7 linked regions of the Homo sapiens genome follow. The protein of the gene in region 7 purifies or fractionates together with the protein of the main gene of each other region. This does not show direct contact. Each region holds a gene or a part of one and is shown on either strand. Other genes may lie near its edges. The genes, in order: POLR1B, RBM28, RBBP6, PRP4K, RBM27, TRIM56 and DHX8.

Region 1 (3,500 bases), on a different chromosome or scaffold from region 7:
TTATGGTTAATCTACAATAATACAGAAAATATGGTTGCTATTTTTCAATTTTATATTGCTTATTTCAATGTAAATACAATGTGAATTTTTAACAGTCTATAATTCATCTTATGTCATGGTTATGTATCTTCTGAAGATTGTTTTTATGCTCCAAACTCAAAGGTTTAAAAGCTTTAACGTAGCTGGTAAGGAAATCAGATACTCGGCAATGAATTCTCTGAAAAAGCCCCAATTTTCCCTTGGTTTCTCTTGTTGCTGACACAGGTCACCTTAGTAACGCCTTGCTACAGAAGACTCATTTCTTTTTTCTGTTGAGACAGGGTCTTGCTCTGTCACTTAGGCTGGAGTGCACTGGCGTGATCACAGCACACTGCATCCTCCGCCGCCTGGGCTCAGGCAATCCTCTTACCTCAGCCTGCTGAGTAGCTGGGACCACAGGTGTGGCCCACCAGGCCTGGCTAAATTTTTTTAAAATTATTTGTAGAGACGAAGTTTTGTCTCTGGGCTGTTTGCCCAGATTGATCTCAAACTCCTGGGCTCAAGTGATCCTCCCACCCCGGCCTCCCAAAGTGCTGGGATTACAGGTGTGAGCCACCGCACCAGGTGTTTTTTTCTTTTTTCTTTTTGAGATAAGGTCTTGCTCTTTTGCCCAGGCTAGAGTGCAGTGGCAAAATCACCCCTTATTGCAGCCTTGACCTCCTGGGCTCAGGGATCCCACCTCAGCCTCCCAAGTGGCTGGGACCACAGTCATGTACCACCATGCCCAGCTAACAGGTTTTTTTTGGAGACAGGGTCTTGCTCTGTCGCCCAGGCTGGAGTGCAGTGGCGTGATCTCAACTCACTGTAACCTCCGTCTCCCAGGCTCATGCAACTCTCCTACCTCAGCCTCCTGAGTAGCTGGAATTGCTGCAGCATGCCAGCATGCCCAGCTAATTTTTATATTTTTTGTAGAGACAGGGTTTTGCAATGTTGCCCAGGCTAGTCTTGAACTCCTGAGATCAGAAGATCCACCCACCTTGGCATCTCAAAGTGCTGGGATTATAGGCGTGAGCCACCACACCCAGCCACTGCTAATAGTTTTTATTATTTCTGTAGCGATCTCTCTGTGCTGTCCAGGCTGGTCTCAAACTCCTTGGGCTCAAGTTACCCTTCTGCCTCAGCCTCCCAAAGTGCTGGGATTACAGGCATGAGCCACTGTACTCCTGGTCTCATTTCTTTTTCTTTTCTTTTTTTTCCTAATTAGGAATTGATGTGGAATAAAGACACATTTATAAGTGTGGAATACAATGAGCCCACCATGCTTCACTTTAAGTAGATGGGAAATGTAAATTAACCTTTACTTGAAAGGTTAATTTAATAACATTAAATTAATAAGAGAAAACTTACGCTGCCTGCTTTCAATTTTTGTCAGGAAAATTGTAGGCTGCTGAAATTTTTCAATCTAATTTTATGGACAGAGCAAACAGAAACAAAGATTATTACCTTTCGGGAAGAATGTAAATAAGAATTACTACCTAGATAAGAAATTAGAAGGCCGGGTGTGGTAGCTCACGCCTGTAATCCTAGCACTTTGGGAGGCCAAGGTGGGTGGCTCACTTGAGGTCAGGAGTTCGAGACCAGCCTGGCCAACATGGTGAAATCCCGTCTCTACTAAAAATAAAAAAATTCGCCGGGCATGGTGGCACGCGCCTGTAATCCTAGATACCCGGGAGGCTGAGGCAGGAGAATTGTTTGAACCCGGGAGGTGGAGGTTGCAGTGAGCTGAGATCGTAGCACTGCACTCCAGCCTGGGAGACAGAGCAAGACTCTGTCTCAAAATAAAATAAAATAAATTAGAAGCCAGGCACAGTGGCTCACACCTGTAATCCCAGCACTTTGGGAGGCTGAGGCAGGTGGATCACCTGAGGTCAGGAGTTCGAGACCAGCCTGGCTGAAATGGTGAAACCCCACCTCTACTAAAAATATATTAACTCTTAGATTACATCTTTTTGAGGATAAGATGCAAAATATAAAATGCCACTGAATCAATATTCTTATGAAATCATTTTTGTGCCATGCCAACTTTCTCTCTATATACATCTACAGTCAAATTTCACTACTCACAGTAGCTATGTTCTAATGAACACTGAATTAACACATATAAAACCACTACTCCTGGGGAAAAATACAGGGCTGGGTTCCTGCAAGTCTCTGGTCATAACATTCTGGTCAACGGATCAATATACAATCTTGTTTAATGTCAGCTTTTGTTGAAAGGCACCTTATTTAACATACCTTGTTAATTCATTAACACTGAACACTAGACAGCGCTTCAGTGCTATGCTTGGGGACCATTATAAACAGCAAAAACTGGCCAGGCTCAGTGGCTCATGTCTCCAATCCTATCACTTTGGGAGGCTGAAACAGGAGGATCACATGAGCCCAGGAGTTTGAGACCAGCCTGTACAACATAGTGGGACCCTGTTTCTACAAAAAAAATTAAAAATTAGCCGGGTGTGGTGGTGAATGTCTATAGTCCCAGCTGCTCAGGAGGCTGAGGTGGGAGGATTGCTTGAGCCTGGGAGGTTGAGGCTGAGACCCTGTCTCAAAAAAAAACAAAAAAGTCACCAATAAGAAGCACGACAATGTGAAAAACATAGCACCAAATGCACCTCAAAAAGGACCCTCTTTATAGTATGAGCTGAAACCGGAAAGCAGAGCATCGCCCTGCCCCGCCTCAGCTGTAACATTTGCCTCAGGAGACCCAAATTCTTCACTGCTCTGCTCATGTATGTGAATAATCATGAAAGCACTGAGCACTGACATTAGGGTTACAAATAAATTTTAGCCAGTGAGTGAATTCACAAATACAGAATCTACAAATAATGAGGATCAACCATATGTATAAATACAGGCCATTTGCTTTTTATCATTAACACTGTGACCAAGATTTGATGTGATCTTTACATAAAAATATTAAGCAAATTTCCAAACCTGGTGTAAGCCAGGATTTCTGATCCCCTTACTGCTAAATGAACAAACAAAAAAGAGACCACACAAAATGCCAAAACTAGAAACTATAAACATGCAGAAAACAGTGCTGCTGGACAAAGTCACGCCATTCCACAAGTGGTACCACTGGCCAAGGGTGGACATAGCATGCATTTACCTTCAGGAACATAAGGAAGAGCTGACCCGGTGTGAGGACTTCCTGGTTCACCAAACTATCAGGATTGTCCTCCATGCACTCTCCTTTGGCTAAAGCAAAGAGCTTTCGCGTCATGAGACAAAGCATATAAAACTTTTCAGTATTGGATTTCAAGTGGATACAGATGCACTGGCTGTGAAAACAGAAAAAAAAAAAAGCTTAAAACAATTCAGTTGGTAATACTACTTAATATTCTATTAACCAAGATCCCCAACTCATGCTTACTTAACTTTAATTAAATAAAATTAAGCATTCAGTTTTTGAGCTACACTGGCCACATTTGAAGTGCTTATCATGTGACTGGTGGCTATGC
Region 2 (3,500 bases), on a different chromosome or scaffold from region 7:
ACCCTGTGTGACATTAACCAATTCACTTACTGTCTTCCATCTCAAATTACTTACTTGGAAAGAAGGGGTGATAATATTTGCTTTACCTATTTTGAGGTGTTCTAAAGATAAAATGAGACAAGAATGCACAGCTGCTTTGGAAAGGTTTAATTTGATATCGACAGCTAAGGCGTTGGTAATAGTGGTCATAACATCTGCAGTCTCTCTGAGCAGTATTTATTGTTTGAGGTTCTTTTGTCTGGGCCTCAGGCATTTATTGCTGATCTATTTTGAGGAGTAACTGCATTATTGTGTTCTGATTTTTGAAGCTACCATACTGTCTTAATTCATTTTCTGTTGCTTATAAGAGAATACCTGAAACTAGGTACTTTGTAAAGAAAAATTTATTTCTTAAGTTCTGGAGGCTGAGAAGTCCAAAGTTTAGTGGCTGTATCTGGTGAGAGCCTTCTTGTTGGTGGGGACTCTGCAAAATGCCCAGACAGTGCAGGGTGTCATGGCGAGGGGGCTGAGCATGCTAATGTGCTTGCTCAGGTCTCTCTTCCTCTTCTTATAAAGCCCCCAGCTCCACTCTCATGATAGCCCATTAATCTATTAACCCATTAATCCATAAATTGATTAATCCATTCCTGAAGACAGAGTCCTCTGATCCAGTCACCTCTTAAAGACTCCACCTTTCAATACTGCTACATTGGGGATTAAGTTTCCAACACATGAAATTTGGGGGACACATTCAAACCATAGCATATACTTACCTTTCCTGCCTTCTTTGGTGATGTTTTGTTCTTTTTGATGTTGAGTTCTTTGAGGGCCTCATATGTCATGGATTCTCTGTTTTCTTGGGATTATCAAGAAAGGGGGAAGAAGGGGAGCTAACAGCAAAGACACTAAATTAAAAGAGGAGGAAGGCTAACAGTTTCTAAGCAAAGTGGGGAGGGAACCACTGATACCACCCTTGTTTCTCGCCCTCCTGAGACTTTTGGCAAACTGATAGCAAGATGGGTTGGCAGTATATCCTCTAGCTTAGGCTTTGAGGATTTACTCATTTAGTGCTCTTGGCTTATGATTCTCTCTCCTTTTCACACTGCCCCTCCACTCCCTCCCCACTCCATTATTCCAGGGAGTAAGGCATGTCGAGGCTTTGGCTATGTCACTTTTTCAATGCTGGAAGATGTTCAGAGGGCCCTCAAGGAGATTACCACCTTTGAAGGTTGCAAGATCAACGTGACTGTTGCCAAGAAAAAACTGAGGAACAAGACAAAGGAAAAGGGGAAAAATGGTGAGTTTCTAGTAATTGAAGGAAGTTTTTCTCCCAGGGTGAGGAGGAGCACTATGAAAATGAAAGAGGGAGGCATGGAGGTAGCTTCTAGAACTTAAAGCTTTTTGCATTTCTTTTTGATCTCCAAAATCATCCAGTGTATTGTGATACTCATTTTAGTTCTTTGGAAAAATCTGGTATTCCTTGGTATTATTGCCACACTTAACCCTGTGGTAAATGCCATCTGTCGCCAGTAGCTTTTTTTTCTGTGATGTTCTGGCGTAGAAGTGGGTGATTTTCGAGTACTTATTCCATTACCTCTTATTTTTTAGAAAACTCAGAGTGCCCAAAGAAGGAGCCGAAGGCTAAAAAAGCCAAAGTGGCAGATAAGAAAGCCAGATTAATTATTCGGAACCTGAGCTTTAAGGTAAGTGAGAGAGAAAATGAACATTGCATGTTTTGAAGGCTTTTAGAGCCAAGATGTGATCATTAGTAGAACTCCTCACCAAGATGGTATAATTGGGCTTAATTCCTTCTGGGAATCAACCTTACCCCTGTTGAATTCAGAAAGTGGGCCTGTGTAATAAGGGCACTAAGTGTGAAGCTGCTTTCCTTTTTGGGGAAACTACTACTGAGAAAGAAAAGGTAGAAAAAGTTCTCAGACGTCTGTGTTTTTGCCTCTTAGGTACAAAGTAAAATGTCTTCTATTTAGAAACATTTGATGTCCTAGTATCAAAAATAAAAAAAAGTAAACATTCATGTTTTTCATAATTAATGAATTTAGTAGTTGATGTTTTATGTTAATTTGCTGTGATTGTGTTTCTCTTTTTCTTTCTTCACTTTTGGCTTCAGTGTTCAGAAGATGACTTGAAGACAGTATTTGCTCAATTTGGAGCTGTCCTGGAAGTAAATATCCCTAGGAAACCAGGTACTAATAAACCTTCACTTGGTGTGGATTACGTTAGTTAACATATTACCCTTGAACAAACATATATGATATATATGAAGTATTTGGCACAGTGCTTCACATCTAATGAAAACCCAAATAATGGTTTTATTCCCCTGATGATATTTTCTGTTGGATCAGAATTAGTTTTAGAAGGCGAGTTAGTTTGAGAAAGTGTTTTGCTCTCCCCAAGTCCAAGTCAGAGTATACTCAGTAAGAAGATGTAAGCAATTGCTTTGGGGAAGGGCCTGACCTGCTGGCAGAATTTGGGCCATCTTGTGGGCCTGAATTGCAGTAATTTACTTCTTAGTATTCTGGCTACCTCCTGCTGCCTCTCACTTCTTTCTTTGTGCATTTGCACACAGATGGGAAGATGCGCGGTTTTGGTTTTGTTCAGTTCAAAAACCTCCTAGAAGCAGGTAAAGCTCTCAAAGGCATGAACATGAAAGAGATAAAAGGTAAGCTTTCTATACCCATATCATTGACCCAGATATTTCTGGTGTTTTGGTGAATTAGTGTAGTAACCCACTTTCTGCATTTTCAAAAGATGTTTGCATTATTAAGAGTCTCATTGCTAATACGGTAGCTATTTAGGTGAAATACTCTAGAACTTGATCTTGGGGTTAAACTTGAAAGAACCCTTGCCAGTATTCTTTCTTTTATCTGGTGAGAGTGTCCTTTTAAATCCCTAGTGAAAAATGTCCCTGAGATAATTGCTGATAGATGCAGGTTGGTATCTAGATTCCTCCTTGGTTATATCACTGTTCAGCATCTGTGGGCTATTTATTAAACTGACTGTGATTTATATATTGACTTATCAAGTACTGTGCCTAAAGAAGTTATTGCCGGCCAGGTGCGGTGGCTCACACCTGTAATCCTAGCACTTTGGGAGGCCGAGGAGGCAGGTGGATCACCTGAGGTCAGGAGTTCAAGACCAGCCTGGTCAACATGGCGAAACCCCGTCTCTACTGAAAATACAAAAATTAGCCAGGTGTGGTGGTGCATGCTTGTAATCCCAGCTACTCAAGAGGCTGAGGCAGGAGAATCGCTTGAACCTGGAGGCGGAGGTTGCAGTGAACTGAGATGGCACCACTGCACTCCAGCCTGGGCGACAGAGCGAGACTGTGTCTCAAAAAAAAAAAAAAGAAGTTATTGCCGTAGAGATGTCCTAGCTTCCAGGTAGGGTGCAGATGATTCCAGAATGCCTGTTTTGATTCCTGATAGTCTAACTGGAAACATAGTTCTAATTCTTTATTTTTTTACTCCATCTTATCCCAGGTGTGGTGGCTATGTAGAAAG
Region 3 (3,500 bases), on a different chromosome or scaffold from region 7:
TAATTATTTTCAAACTTAAAAACAGTGGAATAGAACCAACTATTCAACTAGTGTAGCAACATTAGTACAATTTATTTGTAAAAATAACTCTACAACATAATTTTTAAGGCCATGTCTCGACTGAGATGATGCAAGTTTATAGGACCTTCTCTACACGGAAATATTGTATTTAAAAGTTCTCTTTTATGAAGTTCAGACTGATTATCACTCCACTAATTACTACCTGTTACTTCCTAAACTGTCTTTTGAAGGCACTGACAGGTTAATGCTGCTATGACCTAGCTCTCCCCAAAAGCTTACTTATTCATTTATTTTTTATTTTTTGAGACAGAGTCTCACTCTGTCGTCCAGGCTGGACTACAGTGGTGTAATCTTGGCTCACTGCAACCTCCACCTCCTGGGTTCAAGCGAATTCTCCTGCCTCAGCTTCCCAAGTAGCTGGGACTAGAGACGTGTGCCACCATGCCCAGCTAATTTTTGTATTTTTAGGAGAGACAGGGTTTCACCATGTTGGGCAGGCTGTTCTCAAACTCCTGACCTCAGGTGATCTGCACAAAGTGCTGGGGTTACAGGTGAGAGCCACCACACCTGGCCCCAAAAGTTTAAATGAAGGAAAACCAACTCCTGTAACCTCTTTTTTGAGGGAGGAAGTGGGTAAAGATCATACAAAGCAGAATAAATTCTAGTTTTAACTTCTATAATTAACAATGAAAATATCAACGCTTTCTCTCAAAAGCTTAAGTAAAAATAACAGTGTTGGCTAAGTTTCTAATTTGTGCCTCACCAAACAGAACTGGTTACTTCTGTTAAACTAGAGGTGCTTTAAATTATAAATAATTGGTACACAACAGCAACAGTAGGGGTTTAGATTTTAAGCATCTTTTCAGTGAGCCATGAATAACTATTACCTTCTTTTAAAATGTGATCCAGTAATGACATAGTAAACTTTCATAAGTTTAGCAATGAAGCACTAGAAGATATCCCGAATTTCCTTCTTTTTGGAGACAGGGTCTCACTCTGTCCCCTAGGCTAAAGTGCAGTGATGTGGTTATAGCTCACTGCAGCCTTGACTTCCTAAGCTCAAGTGATCCTCCTGCCTCAGCCTCCCAGGTAGCTGGGACCACAGGTGCATGCCACCATGTCTGGTTATTTTATTTTTTTGGTAGAGACAGAGTCTTGCTATGTTGCCCAGGCTAATCTTGAACTTCAGGCCTCAAGCAATCCTCCCCCATCAGCCTCCCAAAGCTCTAAAATTACCAGCATGAGCCATTATGCCTGGCCAAAACTCTTGTTATGAAGTTTTGGAGGCTCCTTTATCCTGGTGGTGATTATGACCTAGACTAGCAGTTCTCAACCGTTTTGGCACCAGGGAGCTGTTTTGTGGAAGACAATTTTTCCATGGACGGGGGCAGGGGGGTAAAAACTGTTCCACCTTAGATGATCAGGCATTAGATTCTCCTAAGAAGCGTGCAACCCAGATCCTTTGCACACGCAGTTCACAACAGGGTTCATGCTCCTATGAGAATCTTAATGCCACTGCTGATCTGACAAGAGGTGGAGCTCAGGTGGTAATGCTCGCTCAGCTGCTGTTCACCTCCTGCTGTGTTGCCCAGTTCCTAACAGGCCAAGGATGGATACTGGTCTGTGGCCCAGGGTTGGGGACCCCTGACCTAGACAGTAAGATTCTTACTTCTTAGATTAATATTGCTTGTACCCGCCCACTAGGGCAGGAGCCTCTAACAATCTCCTGTCTCTTCTTTTGGAAAAGAGACGGTGGGAGATGATTGGGACAGTGGGGTCTAGAAGAGAAATAGTTGCAATTCTTGTTCACAGTTGGGAGCTGAGCTTGTTAACTTTAATCTTAAATTAAACTGGTATCTTAGATATTGTCTGACCCCTGACTTTCTTCTACTTCCAAGAGGGTAAATGCAAGCCAATACTCTGCTGTTTGCTGACAGGGAGAAAGTAATCACTGGGAAGGAATATTAAAAATGTCTTAAAAACCATCATTTAAGATACTATATATAATTTATTCTTTTCTAGCCCTCTTTAAGGACAACTACCCAGGACTTAAGAGGGATAAGCACAATACAAACAAATGACCCCCTTCCTTCCTGCCACTGCTGTGCTTTAATTTCTTTGGTGAGATATATATATAAAAAATAAGATGATTATTTTCCAAGATTTTTAGCATGCCTACCTGTAGCAGCTCCTCTCCCCTCTTCTAATTTGTTGTGGTGGAGAAACCAGATAGCCAAGTTTGTTGGAACTGTGTGGGAGAAAAAAAAATAGGCTCAAGTATTTCTCCATGGGTATAATACATGACCTTTCCATGCATAGCTGTTAAGACACCAATTTTAACTACTCTGAAAACTTTTTCCTACTCCCCAGTTCTTAAATTTGTTTCGGATACAGAGCTGAGTAAATATTATATTTACTTAAAACTAACTTTCCCCCACCAATTAACTGTATCATAACAATAACTAGACCTCAAAATAGATTACTTTATGTAATATTATATTTTAATTAGCACTCTATAAATTACTCTGTGAACTTATTGTTATATACAAGGAAAAGAGCCCTTTTGTCTGCTGGGCACAATGAAGTCATTTTACATGTTAAGGTAGGTAGTGTCATTCCAAATCCAAACGAGGAAATGGATGTTAGGGAGTAAAACCACAAGACCACTGTCATGCAGCTAGGAAATGAAGGAGATGGGATTCAAACCCAAGTCTACCTGTTTCTAAATCCTATGTTCCTTCTACTGATACATCCTGCTAGTAACTCATACTTTTAAGAATATATCAATTTTCAATCGGATTATATAAACAGAAATAATTATATAACTAAAAATACATTAAGTAAGTCTGCTGATTTTTAATGCCATAAAATATCCCACAGAGAAAATCAAAGTTCTTTGTATTTTAGGGTGGCAAGAACAACTCGATTTCAGACAAAAAATTTTTGTTTGGTAGACGTTAATCTTATTATGTATTTATGTACTCAAATCAAACTTTGATCATCCAAATTAAGGGTAGAAAAAGTTAAACCTACTAGGAAAATAACTGCCACCATATTTAAAATAACTTTTCAAGTAATTCTTATCTATTCATTAAACTGAAGTCCTGTCAAGATCCCCATTTGTTGGATATGAAAGTAGAAAAAAACTTTTAAAATTTTGTATTTTAGAAAAGATTTGCTCATTTAAAAAAAACCCTCATATAAGCTTGAATTTTGACATTTTACATAAAAAATGTTAATCTGGCACATGAAAGTTTACAATAAAGAGCAGCGACCCGCTGCCTAGTTTGGACCTTCCATTATCTAGTTTGCCTAGTTTGGACCTTCCATTATCTAGTTTGCAGGCAATCATCTGAAGATTATTGTAAACATCTACTCACTGTTCCCAGCCTGGTCGACCACCACCTGGACGAGCAGTATTTATTCTTACTGGACCTAGAAACAAAAAATAAAAGCAGTAGGTAAATACAAAATTGCAC
Region 4 (3,500 bases), on a different chromosome or scaffold from region 7:
CAGAGGTTGCAGTGAGCCGAGACCACGCCACTGCACTCCAGCCTGGCAACAGAGCAAGACCCCATCTCAAAAAATAAAATAAAATAAAATAAATAAATAAAAATAAAGAAAATAAAAATGTTCACCCTCACTAGTCACCTAAGAAATTTCGATTAAAACAATTTTTGGGTTTTTTGTTCTGTTTTTAAGAGTGACAAAATACTATATGGTATCCTGGTAATAAAGGTTTTCCTAAACTTTCCTAATACAGTTTCAGGAAAAGGGGCAGTTCACATAGTCATAGAAGTAGAAGTAGAAATTGACCTAACTTTCCTGGATGGAAATTTAGCAATAACTTTCTACAATGTAAATGTACATACTCTGAGACTTTGCAAGTCCACTTCTATGAGTCTATTCTATAAAGAAACCTCACATATAACCAAGGCACATCTTCGCATATAATAGTGAAAAACTGGAACCAACCTAAATTTTTCATCAGTTTCAATAGGAGAATGATACTATAATACATCTACACTGAAATACCAGTTGCTGTCAGGCAGAATGAAAAACAATCTATATGTTTTGTCGCAGAAATGTTTCCTGAAAAAAGCAAGCCACATGTGAATATGAATAATATGACTCCAGTTTTGTTAAAAAAAAAAATTCCCTTATATTCATGTTATTGTCTGTACAAGGAAAGACCTAAGATAAAGTAAATTTCTAAGGAGTGGTAGTGGAGAAATGAAAAGGGAGACAATTTACAGGCTTATTTGGATTTCTCTTTAATAAGTAAGTATGCATCACTTCTGTAATTTAAAAAAATATTTTTGTTTCAAATACTCAGCTCTAGTCCTTAATAAACTCCTCAGAATTTGCTCTTCAAACAAAGCAAACTGAAAGACCACCAAGATAATTAAGAAGCACTTGAGATAACAGAATCAGTAAAACTAATCACTGCCTCAATCCAGGAAGCCAAAGGAAAAAGGGGCTATTTCATTACAGTGCCACTCAGAAGTAAAGAATCAAGACGCTCTTAAGACACAGCACTTGGAAATAAAATTTGAAATTTCTCTGAAAATATGATGACTTCACTTTCAGGGTGAGTTTATATTTATACCCATTCACAGAAAATATTATTATGAACACAGTAAACGGCTAGGAATTAATAACATCCTTATATAGTATAAGCCAATACTCTTTTAATAAGCAAAACCTAGCTGGCAATTTCATAATACTTAAATACTAAATACAAAAAAGACATTAAGAAATCTGTTTCTAAAGTAGTTTAAGTGGTATAAACACTCCTCCCCGCAAATACTTCCGTTCTATGATCCTACGTAAATTATATACATTCTCTGATTCTATTTCATTTATAAATTAGGTATGAGAGCCCCTTCACCTCATGAGTTAAGATAATCACATGAGGATTTATAAGAACTAAGACAATATATTATTCAAATAGTACAAAATAATTTCATATACTATTCTTCTTAAGCTTAAGAGATACTACTTTTCAACAATGAGATTATATGTATTAATACAAAATTTTCCATTTTAATTATACTTTGGGGACCAAAAAATATTGGTATTGGTTTCTATTTATACTGTTAAAATTTAAAACTCATGCAAATACAAGAGAATGAACAGAACACAATTGTTAAACTGATTACCTTTCCCCCTTTTCAAAGTTAAGAGTTTCAGCCTACACTGTTCATGAAGTAATAATCCTCTCTCTAAACGCCCCCAATGAAGATTTATCAGCCAAATTACATGGATTGAAAGGAGTGCCTTAGCAAACTAGGTATTAAATCAAGAATGTGAAAAAACCCAATTCTATCATCAAGCTCAGTATTTGTTAAACACCTATACTTAAAATACTCATCGAAAAAAGTGCAAATATTAACATGGTTAATGGATTGGGTTACTTAAAATTATGAAACTCATTACTACTTCATTTATTTTTATTTTTACTTACTACTTCATTTTTAATGGTCCACAAGTTCTAGTTTTCCGTTTAAAATCTCATGCACTGGTAAAAAGCTTTAACATTTTGTACACAAGTTACCTTGGAGAAGAAAGTCGTCTCCTCTCTGGTTCTCGTCGTTTTCTTTCTAAGGATCGGCTCTTGGCTCTTCTCCCAGGAGACAGTGTCCGCGAGGGGGATTTGCTCTGCTTAGATCTTCTATCATTCAAAAGTGGAGACCTGCTTCTTCTTGATTTATCACGTGGTTTTGGAGACAAACTTCTTCTTTTAGGACTACGACCAGGTCTTCTGCTGGGTGACCTATTTTCTTTCCCAGATGAAGCATCTTTAGAGGGAGATTTAATTGGCTTCTTTTCTTTATCAGTTTCAGACCGTTTTGATTTTCTCTCTTTGGACCGTGACCTTCTGTCTTTGGATTTACCTCTTAAATCAACTGGGGATCTGGATTTTTTACCTCGATCGCGACTTCTACTTTCATTTATAATTGGGGATTTTTTCCTATCTTTTGATTTACTTTTATCTTCAATTTTAACCTTATCATCAGTAGGAGATCTGGCCTTACCAATTTTCTCTTGAGATCGCCTTCTAAGGGTAGGGGATTTTGATTTCCTTGCTTGATCTTGAGACTTACTTCTTTTGGATGGGCTTTTAGATTTTTTCCTCTCCTTTGACTTGCTCCTAGTTGTTTTCTCTTTAACGATTTCAATACCCCCCTTACTTTTCTTTTTATCAGACCTATGTCTAGTCCGTTCTTTGGATCTGCTTTTACTTCGTTTCTTTGTAGTAATTTTATTGTCCACAAGTTCAAGTTTCCCCTTTGTACTTGAAGATCTAGTACTAGACCTATTTCCATTTCTTGCCTTTTCATGAATTTCCCCCTCTTCTTCAGAGCCAGACTCATAACCTTGCAAAATGAGCCCCATACCAGACTGGACCTTTCCTTCCATTAACTCATTATCAAGTTCGGCCTTAATCAAGGCTCTCTGTTTTTCCAAGTCTTCTAGCAAAGCTAAATCATCAAGTTTAGTTCTTTTTGCTGGAGACATACCCTCTTTATCAGAAGCATCAATAATCTCTTTTCTTTTGTGTTTCTTATGTTTATGCTTATGTTTATGTTTTTTATCCTTGTCTTCTTCTGAGGAATGTTTATGTTTCTTATGTTTACTTCTGTGTTTATGCTTCTTTTTTTTGTGACGACTGTGCTTATTTTGAGACTGGTCTTCTGATACTTCTCCATTTTCTTCATTTATACTCTTTTCAGAATTAGCATCTTCCATCCTATAAATATATCAAACACATTTTAAAATCATATCATTTATCAAGTATTCAAAGAGCCATAAGAAAATAACAGTAATGAGAAAATACATCTCAATGTAATACATGAAGTCAGTCACTAAAATTTTTTCAGAACAGCTTCAGACATTTTATTTCAAAGAAGGTCTACGGCAAGAACTGAGTTGGATAGTGATACAACTTTATTGTGTTTCTAATGGTTGAACTCACCAAAAGTATTAGAGGAAATCCCTAATGGAGTGAG
Region 5 (3,500 bases), on a different chromosome or scaffold from region 7:
GGTTGCAGCGAGCCAAGATCGAGCCACTGCACTCCATCCTGGGTGACAGAGCAAGACTCTGTCTCAAAATAAATAAAATAAGATAAAATAAAATAAACTGGACTATAACTAAAAGATATGCAATATATGCAACATTTGCTCTGCTAGTACTTTTGGGCACAATATGAGAAAAGGTGGTGATTTTTACCATCATAATCTCTGCATCGCCTCTTTGGTGGTAGGTTTCGACCAAAAGAATTGGAAGAGCTATGATTGTTATAGTAATTAGACCAACTCTCAGTTGTGTTTTCAGAGTGGTGAGCAGGTGCGATCACAGTAACAGTGCTGGGAATAGACTGTGCCCCAGAGGAATACTGCTCAGAAGAGTTTGGAGGTGGTGCAGACACAGGCACATAGGAACTCTCCAGGTCATTCCTTTCACTCTTAAACTTCGATCTTTCCCTGTGCTCTACTTGGAGACAAAATTAAAAACAGAAAACAAAGAGATCAGATATTTCATGTTCTTAAACTATATTTATTTTCTCACATAGAAAACATGAGAATGTTGAATTAAACTTATCTAGCTATCCATATTTCATACTCCTCTCTTTATTAATATATCCTAAAAGCAGGGACATCAACAAGTGACATATCTTGGGCAAGAACTTGTGCAAAATCATCTTTTATAGTATCAACATCAGTTACACTTAACTGAAAAAGAGTCAGCTTCTCCACAGATATTTAATAAGAAGGTTATCTAAGAACTGACTTCCAAACTTGTATCTCAGAAGATGAGTGGTTGGGATCCCAATAATCTACTTATTTTATCCATTTAATTTTATAAACTTCAAGCACCCTTACAGCAAATCAATTACTTTTAGAAAACCAAACAAAGAAGAAAAGCAGGCAACCCTCTTCCTCACGTGATAGCTTTATTGATTAAAGGATATTTGTATCCATTATACAAAATGAGTTAAGTCTAGACATGTACAATGATACACTTGAATAGCTCCTTTTTAATCAAACTCCCTTGACTCCATCCCCAGAATAGAGCCCTGTTTTCTAACAAAATGGATATTGAGCTTCTTGAGACAATTCCAGTTTTTACACTGCTCAGACATATTAAAGGTACAACTTTAAGAGAATTTCTTGCACCCCTGTGATAGAGACAGATAAATAACTACAGAGTTTTTAGGGGGACACTCATCTACTCACCAACATTCCTATTTGGATCCCGGTCTTTGCTGCGCCCCCTACTTCGGCTTCTACTGCGACTCAGGCCTCGACTCTTACTCCGACTCTTACTCCTGCCTCTTCTCCAGTCATACTTCTCACGGTACAATTCATTCCGCTCATAGTACCGGTCATAGTCTCTCCATTTCCCGTCTTCTCTTTTTTTCTCACGTGTCCTATAATATACAGATATAAAAGCCATATGCAGGCTATAGAAACCAAGTCTGCAAACAAATCTATAGTATAAATACTACTCTTGAGTCATCCAAATGCATATCTATGCTTTTTTAGAAAGTTGCAAATCTACCACATAATTCCTCTAATCAAATATATACAGAGAAAAAACATCCCTCCTGCAATTATACTGGGTGGGGAGAAATGAAAAAAAGAGGTGAATCCAAAGTATGGGGAGGGGTGGGCAGGGGAAAACAGAAAATTTGAAATAGAAAAGAAAAAAGGCTCAAAAAAAAGTGTTCCTAAACAAAGACCAATTTTTGATGTTAGGCTGATGATTCAATATACAAGTTGTACTACTTGTCATAAAAAAATGACTTGGATGATTTTAATACTAAGCACCCCTAACCAAATGGAACATTTCATTAATATTCTCTAAGGGGACTGCTCCCACCCCTGAGCTCTTGGGGAAAACACATAATAATGACTGTTTATAAAAGGAACAGAAAGTAAGACAAAAGACAAAAAACAGAAAGAATGAAAGGAAGAAAGGTAACATCTTTCTTTAATGAGTTTACAGAGAGAGGAGTAAGTATATATATTAAAAATCCCTTTAATGTCCTTGCAAGGCAACTAAAAAGTGAGTTATCAATGTCTTCCTAATTAAAGATAAACACAAACCTTCGTTCACTAGATTCTGAACGAGTCTTCTGGGGACTAGGATATTTCTTTTTTCTGCCATCTCGTTCTTCCTCTGCTGGCTCCTGAAATACCTATATGAAAATATTGAGTAGAAGTAAGAGCAGGGCCAGGCACGGTGGCTCACACCTGTAATCCCAACATTTTACGAGGTCCAGGTGGGAAGACTGCTTGAGGCCAGGATATTGAGACCAGCCTGGGAAACACAGGGAGACTCCATCTCTACTAAAAATAATAAATAAAATAAGTTAGCTGGGCATGGTGGGATGCACCTGTATGTAGTCCCAGCTACTCAGGAGGCCAATATGGGAGGACTGCTTGAACCCAGAAGTTTGAGGCTGCATTAAGCCATGATCACACCACTGCACCACAGGCTGGATGACAGAGTGAGACCTTTCTCAAAAACAAACAAAAAACAAAATAAGAATGGTCCCTCTCGGCCGGGCGCAGTGATTCACACCTATAATCCCAGCACTTTGGGTGGCCGGGGCGGGCAGATCACTTGAGGTCAGGAGTTTGAGACCAGCATGGCCAACATGGTGAAACCCTGTCTCGACTAAAAATACAAAAATTAGCCACGTGTGGTGGCACGTGCCTGTAGTCCCAGCTACTCGGGAGGCTGAGGCAGGAGAATCATTTGAACCCAGGAGGCAGAGGTTGCAGTGAGCCGAGATCACGCCACTGCGCTCCAGCCTGGGCAACACGAGACTTTGTCTCAAAAAAAAAAAAAAAAAAAAGAAAGAATGGTCCCTCTATAAATTATGAAACATGTCCATCTACCTGATAATATTTCTGGCGCAAGAGAGGGCACGAGTAAATACACTGAAAAAATAAAGTCAATTCATAGCCAAAAGAGTCAGGCAACAGCAGAAATAAAAAAGATGCTCAGATTACTTCAACAAGCAGTTTGTTAATTTTTTAATGTTAAAGTAGGGAATGGTAGTGTAGGAAAAGTATAAACAATTCATTCTTCAAATTAAAACAGCAAATCTCTTAAGTACCATAGAGTAAAACGGTTATGTTTTCCTCATTATGAAATATATATACATACATAATTCATTTGAGTAGCTCTTCAGATTTATTCCATAGGAAACGTTTTAGGAAAAAATGGTTAAATCAATGAATGCTATAAAACTAAGTAATTCATGTAAACTATGGAAAAATGGTATTGGAACTAATGGAAATGTTAAGGCTTTCTCTTAAAGCCTAACCGTCAAAATTGACCAGAAATACAAAGAGAACAGTAATTTTTATTTTTTTATTTTATTCTTTTGTTTTTTGGAGACCGAGTCTCACTCTGTCGCCCACGTTGGAGTGCAGTGGCGCTATCTCAGCTCACAGCAACCTCTGCCTCCTGGAGAACCAGTAATTTTTATTATTGTCTTTGAACAAGTTTATCTCAAACCGAATATATA
Region 6 (2,987 bases), on a different chromosome or scaffold from region 7:
GTGGAAACAGCAGCTCTCCGGAGTTGCATGGGAGCCATGGGCAGTGGTCCTGGCTGGTGAAATGATTCTAGCCACGTGGCCCACCCAGGGGGCAAAACAATAGAAACCTTCAGAAATGAAACGTCACCTGGCTGCAAGAAGATAGTCCCACAGGCGCCCTAGAGATGGGGATGCCAAGTGGCTTCTCGGGAAGCTGTAAGAATCCACAGGGCATTGTAAGATGGAGGGAAATATTAAGTTTTCTTCGTAAAGAGGTGAGGGGGGCGAGAGCAGCAAAGGACACTGGAAAATGAGAAGCATGGATGGGAAGTGTTGCATTGAGCATAATTTGGAGGTAAAATCTCCAACACCGTAACTGAGTGGCCTGGGGACCTGATAGAAAGCCCTGCTCAGGACTAAGGCAGAGTTCCCAGTTATATCGCAGATACAAAGAGACCAGGAACACGCTTGTAATCACAGCACTTAGGGAGGCTGAGGCGGGTGGATGACCTGAGGTCAGGAGTTCGAGACCAGCCTAGCCAACATGGTGAAACCCCCATCTCTACTAAAAATACAAAAATTAGCCAGGCGTGGTGGCACATGCCTGTAATCCCAGCTACTCAGGAGGCTGAGGTGGGAGAATCGCTTGAGCCCGGGAGGCAGGGGTTGCAGCGAGCTGAGATCGTACCACTGCACTCCAGCCTGGGCAACAGAGTGAGACCCTGTCTCAAAAAGAAAAAAAAAAAAGAGAGAAATCAGGAACATCATGAAAGATACAGCAAAATGTTTTACCCCAGCCCACTGCACCACACCTGGGATTGTGACAATTAACTTGATAAATTGTTCCTTTTCCTGTTCGGAACTGACTAGGTTGTGCGTGGATGGACCAGTGAAAAGAAAATCCTGTTTGGGTAGGGAAGAGGGAAGTAGAAAACCTCTTTCGTATTCTTGGTGTCAAGAAATGGGAAGAGAATGAGGGAGCAGAGACCTGGGTTGAGTGTTGGCTCTGCACTAAACAGCTGTGTGATCTTGGTCTAGTGCCTTAACCTCTCTGAGCCTCAGTTTGTACATCAGTAACATTGGGATAATGACATCCACATGCCCACTTCACAGAGCTGCTGTGAGGACTGGATGAGAAATGTAGAGAAGTATTTCGGACACCATAAAGCTCAAATACAAGGTGTTGGTTAGGAAAAGTTTCAACTGACTTGTACCCACCTGATACCCCTCCATCAGCATAAGCGTGTATGAGGATGTTAGGTACATGTGTTGTGAGTGAAAGCTCTGGAACACCCGAGTAGAGCTTTCTGCAAATCAGCTTCTCCTTCAGAGGAGACCATTTTGTTTTGCTTTCCAGCAGTTACTTGAAGAAGCCTTATCTGAAGTCACAACAGTGACTTCAGGAATAGAAGGGACCAATGGCCAGCTTGCTGAAATGTAATGCCATTCTTAAAAGCCAGCTAAGAATCAGACCGTATTAGTTAAGGACCCATAAGAGTAGACATTTAGAAAAAGTGAAAAATGGCAAGAGTGGCCCAATCTTTTGAGAGTTTAGAGAAAATATCATTTGGAAAGGGAGTAGCTCTCCTTCTATTTTAGCCTTATTATTACGGTATCTATAAAGCAATGCCATATTCTAAATCTGCAGAAATAAAATTCTAAGGGGCGAAAGTCCAAGGCAGAAGTCAAAAGTTTTGCAAGGAAACCGATGAGGTTGCTGACCTGAGCTGGGCAGGGTTGAACAGGCGAGTGCCAAGATCAAGGTCTCTGATTGTCTCTCCTTGAAAGGTAAGCAGAGAACTAGGGCTATCCCATAAATTAAGTGGGAGATTGGAAAGGGGTGCGGACTTCTGTATTGGGGAGAAGGTCTTGGATGAACTGGGGCAGAGAACTGCCAGAGAGAGTACCTAGGAATACGTTGTTAGCAGGAGAAAGACCAAGTTCAGATGCAGACTTGGGAAAGTAGGTAACTTGACCAAAGGTAGCAAAATTAGACTACCCAACTGGATTGTGAATGCAGTTTATGAAATGGATCAGGACAGGAGCAAAAATAGATTTTCTAGAAACTGCAGACTCCTGTGATTGGAGCAGTATACAAAGTACAGCAACATCAGACTAGATCTCACCTGAGGTGCTGGGTGAGAAATCTTAGGGACCAGATGGAAGAGGGCCTGTGTATAAAGACATTAGGAAGGAGGTTTGGGAGGGCAGCCTGACTTGTCTCCAGAGAAAGTTAGAACTGGTTGACTTAGCAACCAAGGGACACTGGGTCAAAGACGAGGAATCAGGACGTCGGTGCCTAGTGACTGAGCGCCAGCCCAGCCCATTTCTCTACATTGCCATGGGCTAAACCCAGTGTGCTGTAAACTCTTCAGTTCCTTTGGTTATGGATTTTGTATCTTTTCTGTGTTTCTTAATAAAGTTCTTTTGAAAAATGGGAACCTTTCTCAGATGGGAATTTTGTATCTTTCCTCTGTTTCTTAATAAAGTTCTTTTGAAAAATTGGAACCTTTTCTCAGAAGGGTTTATGGATACGGGGAACCTTTTTTTTTTTTTTTGAGACGGAGTTTCGCTCTTGTCGTCCAGGCTGGAGTGCAGTGGCACGATCTTGGCTCACTACAACCTCCACCTCCCAGGTTCAAGCAATTCTCCTGCCTCAGCCTCTTGAGTAGCTGGGATTATAGGCACAAGCCAACACGCCTGGCTAATTTTTGTACTTTTGGTAGAGACGGGGTTTCACCATGTTGACCAGGCTGGTCTAGAACTCCTGACCTCAAGTGATCCACCCGCCTCAGCCTCCCAAAGTGCTGGGATTACAGGCGTGAGCCACTGCACCCGGCTGGATACAGGGAACCTTTAACAACCAGGCCCAGATAGTGAAGGAAATCAGGTCATCAAAGCCACCCAATGGTAGGTAGCTCCCAGGGTGGCCACACAGATTCCTTGGGGACATTGCAGAAGCATGCACCTTCTGGGTGGGAACCAGTAGGTGATCTGGCCCATGCTGG
Region 7 (3,500 bases):
GCTCTGCTTACCTTTGCTAGTGGAAGGCTTCGCTGGAGGCCGCATGGTTTGTATGAGACGCAGCAAGTTACTAATAAGAGAATCCTTTGAAAAGAAACATAGAACGAAAATTGTCAGCTCCCATATCAGTGCTTAAATACACTTAAAAGGCAAAGAATGTCCTGTAGGGAAGGGTGGTTACGCACTTGAATTTAGCTAATTGGAATACATGAAACATAGTGTGTCAACCTGGTGTAGCATGAACCTAGTATAATAGCTTCAGAGAAAGCCGATATTTAGGACTCTTTGGGGAGAAAAGTTATTAGGCTCCCTGCAACCATTTTATTTCCCAAGGTTTAGAACTACCCCCAAAACTTGTTTCCAACTTCCTGACTCACAGAACAAGAATGTAAATACCTACAAAGACTTAATGATGAAAATCCTGCCCTGTTTTCCTAGAGGTATCACAGAAAATCTGGTTAAATCATCACTACTTAATGGCATGAAAACATTACACACTTAATGGCTTATTTAATTGATATGTATAAAATTGTCTCCTTCCTATATCAAAATCCTATATTAAACCCTATCAAAATTTAAAATCAATAGTGACATTAAAACATAAATTATGTAATCCCAGCACTTTGGAAGGCCGAGGCGGGTGGATCACGAGGTCAGGAGATCGAGACCATCCTGGCTAACACGGTGAAACCCCATCTCTACTAAAAATACAAAAAATTAGCCGGGCATGGTGGCAGGCACCTGTAGTCCCAGCTACTTGGGAGACTGAGGCAAGAGAATGGCGTGAACCCGGGAGGCGGAGCTTGCAGTGAGCTGAGGTGGCGCCACTGCACTCCAGCCCAGGCGACAGAGCAAAACTCTGTCTCAAAAAAAAAAACAAACAAACAAACATAAATTAAAACATTAATATCTACAGATTATCTTCTCCACATATACATACCGTAAATTCTGCACCATTTTTGACGAGAGAAGCCTTAAAAGTATCAAAGGTGGTATTTTTCTCAGCAAGACTGATCACAAATTCAGCTGCAAATAAGAAACAGAATTCAGAAAAGAAGAGACATGAACAAGAAATCAGTTTCAAGTATGGTGAAAACAAAACTAATTAGGTTATCCAACAGTAATAAAAAACAAAGACCACCATCTGGTAAGGGTAAAGAGAGAAAATCTGGCCAGGTGTGGTGGCTCATGCCTGTAATCCCAACACTCTGGGAGGCCAAGGCAGGCGGATCACTTGAGGTTAGGAGTTCAAGATGAGCCTGGCTAACACAGTGAAACCCCGTCTCTATTAAAAATACAAAAATTAGCTGGGTGTGGTGGCAGGCACCTGTAATCCCAGCTACTTGGGAGACTGAGGCAGGAGAATCACTTGAACCCGGGAGGCAGAGGTTGCAGTAAGCCGGCATTGCGCCACTGCACTCCAGCCTGGGCAACAGAGTGAGACTCCGTCTCAAAAAAAAACAAAAAAAACAAAACAAGAAAACAAGAGAGAAAATCTAGACTGCTGAAATTATCCACACATATTCTAGAGAATTTATACAAATGAAAGGAAGATATTACTACAAAATGGCTCAATGTAGCCCTTGAGTGCATTTAAACTAGGAAGACCTATTTGACCCACATCATGGTACCCTCTTCTCACAAAACCACTACCTGGGCACGCTGCCACCTAGACTAGACTGTAAAGGTGACAATAAAAAGCATGAGCCCATGTAGACACACAGAGGCACACAACAGAAGGACAGACCCAATCTGTATATGAGGGCCAGGCAGCTGCTGGGTGGTGCAATCTCCACATTGATGAAAGACTTTTTTGCCAAATTTTTCTCCACAAACCTGCCTAGTTCTTCTTTTTTTTTTTTTTAAGACAGAGTCTGGCTCTGTCGCCCAGGCTGGAGTGCAGCGGTGCGATATCGGCTCACTGCAACCTCCACCTCCCGGGTTCACGCCATTCTCCTGCCTCAGCCTCCCGAGTAGCTGGGACTACAGGCGCCCACCACCACGCCTGGCTAATTTTTTGTATTTTTAGCAGAGACAGGGTTTCACCATGTTAGCCAGGATGGTCTTGATCTCCTGACCTTGTGATCCACCCGCCTCAGCTTCCCAAAGTGCTGGGATTACAGGCATAAGCCACTGTGCCCGGCACACCTGCCTAGTTCTTGAAACTTTCTTTTTTTCTTTTTTTTTTCTTTTTTTTGAGACGGAGTCTCGCTCTGTCGCCCAGGCTGGAGTGCAGTGGCGGGATCTTGGCTCACTGCCACCTCTGCCCCCTGAGTTTAAGCGATTCTTCTGCCTCAGCCTCCCAAGTAGCTGGGGCTACAGGCGCATGCCACCATGACCGGCTAATTTTTATATTTTTAGTACAGACAGGATTTCACCATATTGGCCAGGCTGGTCTCGAACCCACGACCTTGTGATTTGCCTGCCTCGGCCTCCCAAAGTTCTGGGATTACAGTCATGAGCCACCGCACCTGGACTTTTTTTATTTTTTCATTTTTTTTTAACAGTCTCACTCTGTCTCTCAGGCTGGAGTACAGTGGTACGATCTTGGCTCATTGCAACCTCCGCCTCTCGGGTTCAAGCAATTCTCTTGTCTCAGCCTCCTAAGTAGCTGGGATTACAGGTGCCCTCCACCACGCCTGGCTAATTTTTGTAGTTTTAGTAGAGACGGGGTTTTGCCACATTGGCCAGGCTGGTCTTGAACTCCTGACCTCAGGTAATCCTACTGCCTCAGCCTCCCGAAGTGCTGGGATTACAGGCATGAGCCACTGTGCCCGGCCTAGTTCTTGAAACTTCTAATATTAGAGCTATTTATTAAGCTACTTTCAGACAGTGGCTCACGCCTGTAATGCCAGCACTTTGGGAGGTTGTGGTGGGCAGATTGCTCGAGCCCAGGAGTTAAAGACCAGCCTGGGCAACATGGCAAAACACCATCTCTACAAAAAATACAAAAATCAGCCGGGGGTGGTGGTATGCATCTGTAGTCCTAGCTACTCGGGAGTAGACTGAGATAATAAGCCTCATACTATGAGACCCACAAAAAAACTGTAATGCTTTCATTTGAATGCTAATCCTAGAAAAGTAAATGAATAAATAACATGAAAGATCTAGATGACTAACTCATAAAGTAGTACTACCATACAATTTCCATCCTGGAATGTGCCTTTATCTTTCTGATAAAGTGAAAGCCAAATGCCATCAGGCTACACGAACACATCTTATGCATAATAAGTTAGTAACGATAATGTCAATGGTTAATACTTTTTGAACATTACTACGTGCCAGGCACTATGCTAAGTGCTTTTTATGGGTTACTTCATGATCCCCAAAACAACCCTCATAAGTAGGTGCTATTATTGTCATGTTTTACAATGAGGAAGCTGACGGTTTGAGACACTGACCTACCCAATAATAACTGGGGGGAGCTAGGAATAAAACCCAGGCAATCTAACTTCAGAGGCTACATTCTTTCAAGAAATGTGGAGGGAGAACTAAGTCCC

The links.
Region 1: the proteins of DHX8 (region 7) and POLR1B fractionate together in Homo sapiens (co-fractionation; one large-scale study listed by BioGRID). This does not show direct contact.
Region 2: the proteins of DHX8 (region 7) and RBM28 purify together in Homo sapiens (affinity purification with mass spectrometry, with the first as the bait; one large-scale study listed by BioGRID). This does not show direct contact.
Region 3: the proteins of DHX8 (region 7) and RBBP6 purify together in Homo sapiens (co-immunoprecipitation; one large-scale study listed by IntAct). This does not show direct contact.
Region 4: the proteins of DHX8 (region 7) and PRP4K purify together in Homo sapiens (co-immunoprecipitation; one large-scale study listed by IntAct). This does not show direct contact.
Region 5: the proteins of DHX8 (region 7) and RBM27 purify together in Homo sapiens (co-immunoprecipitation; one large-scale study listed by IntAct). This does not show direct contact.
Region 6: the proteins of DHX8 (region 7) and TRIM56 purify together in Homo sapiens (co-immunoprecipitation; one large-scale study listed by IntAct). This does not show direct contact.

The regions. Positions count from the first base shown.
Region 1 is NC_000002.12:112,552,465-112,555,964, reverse strand, and holds part of POLR1B (DNA-directed RNA polymerase I subunit RPA2), read right to left. Parts: intron 3,321-3,500; coding exon 3,149-3,320; intron 2,427-3,148; exon of another isoform or gene 2,275-2,426; intron 1,442-2,274; exon of another isoform or gene 1,386-1,441; intron 1-1,385. UniProt on the Homo sapiens protein: Catalytic core component of RNA polymerase I (Pol I), a DNA-dependent RNA polymerase which synthesizes ribosomal RNA precursors using the four ribonucleoside triphosphates as substrates.
Region 2 is NC_000007.14:128,337,409-128,340,908, reverse strand, and holds part of RBM28 (RNA-binding protein 28), read left to right. Parts: intron 1-1,117; coding exon 1,118-1,276; intron 1,277-1,587; coding exon 1,588-1,682; intron 1,683-2,107; coding exon 2,108-2,183; intron 2,184-2,566; coding exon 2,567-2,659; intron 2,660-3,500. UniProt on the Homo sapiens protein: Nucleolar component of the spliceosomal ribonucleoprotein complexes.
Region 3 is NC_000016.10:24,563,566-24,567,065, reverse strand, and holds part of RBBP6 (E3 ubiquitin-protein ligase RBBP6), read right to left. Parts: intron 3,457-3,500; coding exon 3,402-3,456; intron 2,270-3,401; coding exon 2,201-2,269; intron 1-2,200. UniProt on the Homo sapiens protein: E3 ubiquitin-protein ligase which promotes ubiquitination of YBX1, leading to its degradation by the proteasome.
Region 4 is NC_000006.12:4,031,300-4,034,799, reverse strand, and holds part of PRP4K (serine/threonine-protein kinase PRP4 homolog), read right to left. Parts: intron 3,242-3,500; coding exon 2,045-3,241; intron 1-2,044. UniProt on the Homo sapiens protein: Serine/threonine kinase involved in spliceosomal assembly as well as mitosis and signaling regulation. Connects chromatin mediated regulation of transcription and pre-mRNA splicing.
Region 5 is NC_000005.10:146,227,605-146,231,104, reverse strand, and holds part of RBM27 (RNA-binding protein 27), read right to left. Parts: intron 2,160-3,500; coding exon 2,068-2,159; intron 1,389-2,067; coding exon 1,195-1,388; intron 449-1,194; coding exon 188-448; intron 1-187. Other genes in the region: RBM27-POU4F3, read right to left, coding at 188-448, 1,195-1,388, 2,068-2,159. UniProt on the Homo sapiens protein: May be involved in the turnover of nuclear polyadenylated (pA+) RNA.
Region 6 is NC_000007.14:101,095,481-101,098,467, forward strand, and holds the end of TRIM56 (E3 ubiquitin-protein ligase TRIM56), read left to right. Parts: 3' UTR 1-2,487; downstream 2,488-2,987.
Region 7 is NC_000017.11:43,486,975-43,490,474, reverse strand, and holds part of DHX8 (ATP-dependent RNA helicase DHX8), read right to left. Parts: intron 1,027-3,500; coding exon 941-1,026; intron 85-940; coding exon 12-84; intron 1-11.